Regions from separate parts of the Homo sapiens genome. Here region 2 is linked to region 1. The links come from fine-mapping of genetic effects on gene expression. A gene starts in region 1. The other region holds a variant in brackets. All regions are shown on one strand. Distances are between the middles of the regions.

Evidence for each region. PIP is the estimated chance that this variant, and not a neighbour inherited with it, causes the effect.
Region 2: its variant is the best candidate, but not a certain one, in a credible set for the expression of FOXL2NB in pituitary (GTEx, PIP 0.63).

The regions. Positions count from the first base shown.
Region 1 is chr3:138,945,538-138,948,338 of GRCh38, forward strand. FOXL2NB (FOXL2 neighbor) reads left to right here and starts at 1,680. Exons shown (of 3, transcript NM_001040061.3): 1 at 1,680-1,927. The coding sequence starts at 1,828. It overlaps FOXL2 (forkhead box L2), which reads right to left and starts at 1,600. Exons shown (of 1, transcript NM_023067.4): 1 at 1-1,600. The coding sequence starts at 1,185. The coding sequence ends at 55. RefSeq lists a silencer at 1,616-1,844.
Region 2 is chr3:139,128,615-139,131,415 of GRCh38, forward strand. No RefSeq gene overlaps it. Among named protein-coding and RNA genes, the nearest start is that of BPESC1, 26 kb to the left of the region's middle. The variant G/A (reference allele first, on the strand shown) is at 1,443.

The sequences.
Region 1 (2,801 bases):
GCGTCGCGCGTCCCTGCATCCTCGCATCCGTCTGCACCGGCATGCGGTGGGCTCTCAGAGATCGAGGCGCGAATGCAGCGCGCCGGTCTTGCTGTCGTGGTCCCAGTAAGAGCAATGCATCATGGCGAGCTCGGGCTGCCGGGCACAAGCGAACTGCAGGCCCGGCGCACTGGTGGGCGCGGGCGCCGGGGGCGCGGCGGTGGCTGGGCTGGCAGGGCTGAGCTGGCCCGGCGGCGGCGCGGCGGCCCCGTGGTGCGGTGGGGCAGGCGGCGGTGCGGCGGCCGCGTGCAGATGGTGTGCGTGCGGATGCGGGTGGGGGTGCGGCGGAGGCGGGGGTGCGGCCGGCGGGCCTCCCAGGCCATTGTACGAGTTCACTACGCCGGGGGGCAGCGCCATGCTCTGCACGCGTGTGTACGGCCCGTACGAGGCGGCCGGGCCCGCCAGCCCCTTGACCACAGCGGCCGCGCCAGGGCTACCGGGGCCCGCGGCTGCAGCCGCAGCTGCTGCAGCCGCTGCGGCTGCCGCCATCTGGCAGGAGGCATAGGGCATGGGTGAGGGAGGCTGCGGTAGCGGCCACGAGTTGTTGAGGAAGCCAGACTGCAGGTACTTGGGGGGCGCCAGGTAGCCGTAGCCGTCGGCCCCGGCGCCCGCCACGCCGCACCCGCCTGCGGCGCCTCCGGCCCCGAAGAGCCCCTTGCCGGGCTGGAAGTGCGCGGGCGGCGGCCGGAAGGGCCTCTTCATGCGGCGGCGGCGCCGGTAGTTGCCCTTCTCGAACATGTCTTCGCAGGCCGGGTCCAGCGTCCAGTAGTTGCCCTTGCGCTCGCCGCCGCCCTCGCGCGGCACCTTGATGAAGCACTCGTTGAGGCTGAGGTTGTGGCGGATGCTATTTTGCCAGCCCTTCTTATTCTTCTCGTAGAACGGGAACTTCGCGATGATGTACTGGTAGATGCCGGACAGCGTGAGCCTCTTCTCCGCGCTCTCGCGGATCGCCATGGCGATGAGCGCCACGTACGAGTACGGGGGCTTCTGCGCCGGGTCCGGCTTCTCCGGGGCTGTCCCGCCGCCACCCCCACCGCCCTTGCCTGGGCTCGGCGGCGGCCCTTCTGGCTCCTTGACTGTGCGACCGGTCTCTGGGGCCAGCAGGGCCCCCGCCGCGTCCTCGGGCTCGGGGTAGCTGGCCATCATGACAAAGCCGGCGCGCCGCGGCCGGGCCGCCTCTGCTCTCCGCTCCAGGCGCTGGCGCGGCAAAGAGTTGGGGCGCACGAGTCCGCTTACGGCCAAGTCTCAAACTTCTGGAGACTGCGGATGCCGCCCGCGCTTGCTTGCTGGAGGCCTGTCGCTGCTCTCCCCTCTCCTTCCCCTTCCCCTAGGGAGCGGCCGGCGGGAGTGGAGCTCAGCCTCTGGCCATGGGGAGTCCGCCCAACAGAGAGGGGCTCCGGCCTCGCCGCCCCTCCCCGCTCAGGCCAGTCCCCGCCTTGGTGGGTTTTCTTTTCTGCGCTCTTCCCCTCCCCCCGCCCCCCGGTTTCCCGAAGCACGACCCGCGTCTCTGGCGGAGCTGCCTCCTGGAGTCCCTAGTGCGCCAGGAGCCTCGCTCTGTTCTGATTCGTATGGGCTCCACCGAGTTCCGCTTGCGTCAGGCGCCTTCGCCCCTATAGCGGGGCGGCCAGCCGCGCACGGGCGAGTTCATCTCCAAGTCACTTTTTGTAAACGCCCCGCACAGCCTGGACCGGCCTGCCCCCGCCCAGCGAGCCTCAGGGGCCCAGCCGACAGCCAGGCTCACGCGCCCTTGAAATCTGCCGGTACTCGCTCTGCGGGCTGGGCTGGGAGATGACGAGGACCCCGGTGGGGTCTGCCCGCACCCGGCCAAAGCCCAGGAAGCTCGGGCCCCAGCGAGGAAAGGCGCTCCAAGCCTCCTCGCGGCTTTCAGGTGAAAGAAAACGACTCCTTTGCTCTGCCGTTTGCTGCCGTCTTGAGGCTGAACTTCTAGCTCGGGGCTGGGGAGGGGCGAGACGGCGAGGGGGCTGGACGGGGTAGGGTGGGGAGAGCTGCTCTGAGGCTTTGGGAAAGTCAGCCCAGAAACGGGTGTGACTGTACGAAGAAGCCTCGGCCTGGCCTGTCCCTCGCGCTCTCAGAGTGACTGGGCTGGAATGGGGCAGGGGAGAGGATCTCTGGAAATAGTCGTCAGGGGCGCCGCCTGAATCACCTCTGCCTCTCCCTGCGTTACCAGTGGATCTAGGAACCAGGAATCCGTGTACTAATCCTACGGGGTTGGAGTGAAGGTTGGATGTGTGCTTTAACAGCACCAAGTAGATGCCCCTCAGCTATTGCACTAACACAGGCGGGGCTGTTGCCCGGGACTTTGCGGGACTGTGTATGTGTGTGCACAGGGGTCACATATGGAAGTCATGGAGAGGAGCTGTCCTTGAGATGGGTGAGATACCAGGTGCATGTGTGCTGCTCAGAAACACAGGTATGCACATGTACAAGGTGTGAGATTTGTATTTACGAGGTAAAACACACTTATACTGATAGTTATGTAATATGTTCATCAAGTATTAGAGTAAATGTAGCTGGTGGATATAGCATCTTCTCTTTTTCTCCTTTCTTACTTCTTTCCTTCCCCCCTTTCTTCCTTTCTTTCACAATTCTTCGATGCCTCTTTCCCTCCCAGTGTATGTATTTTGCCACAGACTGGGAAGACAAACATCAGGCTGAGGGAGGGACTTGTTCAAATCTCTCTCCTGATGAGACATTTGTTCTGATCTTTCTCCAAAGAATCAGGAGTTAGTTGTCACCTACCT
Region 2 (2,801 bases), 180 kb after region 1:
GAGGCCTTCATGGGCCAGTGATGATGGAGTTCCATGAAACCAAGAAGCACGTTTAACACAACTGTCTGCACCCAAGGTCAAACATGCATGCCTGCATGCACACACACAAAACAAAATGCCAAAGACAGATAAGAGATAGTCAGAGAGTAATAGGGAAGACACATACACATACACTAAATGATTGCATTAGTGTGTGGCAAAGGACATGAGACAGGGAGGGCTAAGTATAAGGATACTGAAAAAGGTCAAAGGATGGGCACCCATCTCTGCCTGGGAGAGCTGGGGCGGGCGCTTCTCAGCAGAGGTAACATTTGAACTGAATTTTGAAGGATGACTAGGAATTCACAGGCAGAGTGTGTGGGCAGCATTGTTGTCATCTGCAGAGTTGTGAGACAGCAAGGCTTACTTAGGAGGGGCAGGACTAGTACAGAGAGGCAGAAAGTCTGAGGTTTTGTGGGGAGGGAATGAATGGGGTGATGACATTGGAAGGGTGGGGAGGGCAGGTTGTGATGGTTACACAAGGAGAGCTGGTGAGGACTCTCCCATGCAGAGGCAGTAGGAATGGAATGAGAAGGATGGGAGAGGAACTGGAGAGGTGTCTGGAAAGGACTCAATGACTGGCATGAAGAAGACTCAGAGTTAGAGTTGCCACCTGACTTTGGGTAACAGAGCAAAGTGAGAGGTGTGTGGGAGGAGGTCTTGGTGCACAAAGAGGCAGTGGTGGTCAGTTATGTGTGATGTTTAAATGTAATTAGGGCAGTGTAGTGGAAAGAGCAGTGGTTGGAATCAGAGGACCTAGTTTTAAATTCTGGTTTCACCACTGTGTACCTTTAAGTAAGTCACTTAACCTCTCTGAGACTCGATTTTCTTATCTGTTAAATGGAGCTAATACACAGAGTACTCTTTTTGAACACTAAATTATTTAATATATAAACTTTGAGCACTAAATTAAATGGGCATGGTGTCTGGCCCATTTCAGGTGCTCGATTTAATCCAGATAAGCAGGTAAGCAATTTAAGGAGACAGGGGCTTACTACTGGGAATGATGGTGAGGTACGATCACCCATGAATGTGCTGAGCTACACCCCTGACTTGAGCTGAGCAGGTAGACACGGGTGGGGTATGTTGAAAACTGGTTAGGTGATGAAGACAAGTCAGAGGAGTTTGAAGGCAGTGTGTGTGTGTGTGTGTGTGTGTGTGTGTGTGTGTGTGTGTGTGTATGTGTGGTTCCTGCAAAACAAACCATCTGAACAGGTAGACTCAACGGTTGCTACAACTTTTGGTGCTTCCAGTGGCCCCCCTTGAACTAGGTTCTTAACTCTGTCTTCAAATTTCAGTCTGAAACCAGAGTATTGCCTAGGGGTGGAATTTGGTCTTCTCCGTATACACTGAAGTCAGTGAAGACTGCAAGGAACAGTAAGTCCAGTCTGCTATGAGCATCT[G/A]TCAACTCAGTTAAGCACACTCATGAGTAGTCATTATTCCCCTTTAGAACATCAGGCCCCAGGGAACAGAACAGCTGCTCTGCTGGCTTCATCTTTGTGAATATGGATGGGACCTGGTGCCTACAGAGGGCCAATGAGATGTGTGGGGAAGGGAGTGGGTGAAAAAGCTGGAGATGCCCCAAGACAGATAGACGAACAGATGAACAGGTATGCCAAGACCACTATCATTTAAGAGGTGCAGCCAGCTGAAATGGCAGGTGCTGGCATCTCCCAACACAAGTTCCACTCCTGATCAGAGGAAACAGTACAGGAACTCCTCCAGCTCTGCCCAGTGTACTTGACCCCCTACCTCTTCAATCAGGCACAGCCTTGACCTGCAGAGAAGCAGCCACGCTGGGTGCTGGGCTCAAAGGCAGCCACTGATGCAGATCAGGGTGTGAAGTATTTTAAAAAGCTGCAGTCGTATCTGCTATGCTCTAGGGAGCCTGAGAAAGTTTACTGCAGGCAGCAAGTGTCCTTAAGCATCCATTCAAAGCCTTTCCTGAGCACCTACAGTGTGCCCTGCTGTGTGCATGTGCTCAGCACTGTGGGGAAGACCCAAAGAAAGATCCAGCCTCAGTTTTCAGTTGAGCTGGTAGTCTGGCTAGGGGGAGGGGCATCAAAAAATACTACATGGATAAATAGGTAAGGAACAGACAACAATTAAGGTGCAATTAAACACCATTTGCCCATCCACTTATTCATCTACTCAGCAAATGTCTTGGAGCCTCTTCTCTCTGCCAGGCCAGCAATGTCCTTGGCGCTGCCTATTGGAGCTCATGGTCTGGTTTGGAGGTGGAGGTGGGTGCATGCTTGGTATAGGAGTAGACAGAAGCACAAGGTTCTTTTTGGGGAAGATGACACAGCCTCTGGGGTGATGACATGTGTTGAAACTGAAAGGTAGAGCAAGAGTTGGTCAGGCTGCTGGAGAGGGAGGTTGTTGGTGGGAGAGCAGTGCCTGGGTTTGAGGACAGTGGTCCCCTCATTGAGGCCAACCACATCCATAATCACAGACCAACTGCCTTCTTTCTTTTGAGAATGGGGACAAGAGTGGGAAAAGAGTAGGGTGAAAGTCCAGAGTCCCAGAAAAACTCAATCATTCCTGGGCAGGCTGGGATGATTGGTCATCCTAAAAGAGCGGTCTTGCCCTCACAATCATCGGGATGCTCCTAAACCATCCTCCAGGGCTTCGCTGAGCTATGCCTGAGCCAGATAGGTGGCCACACAAGACCAAGAGAGTGAAGGGACAGGGCCTCAGCCCTGGGAGCTCACACTCTGACCAGGTAGGTTTTCAGAGTGCAGTGCAGGTTATGGGGGAGT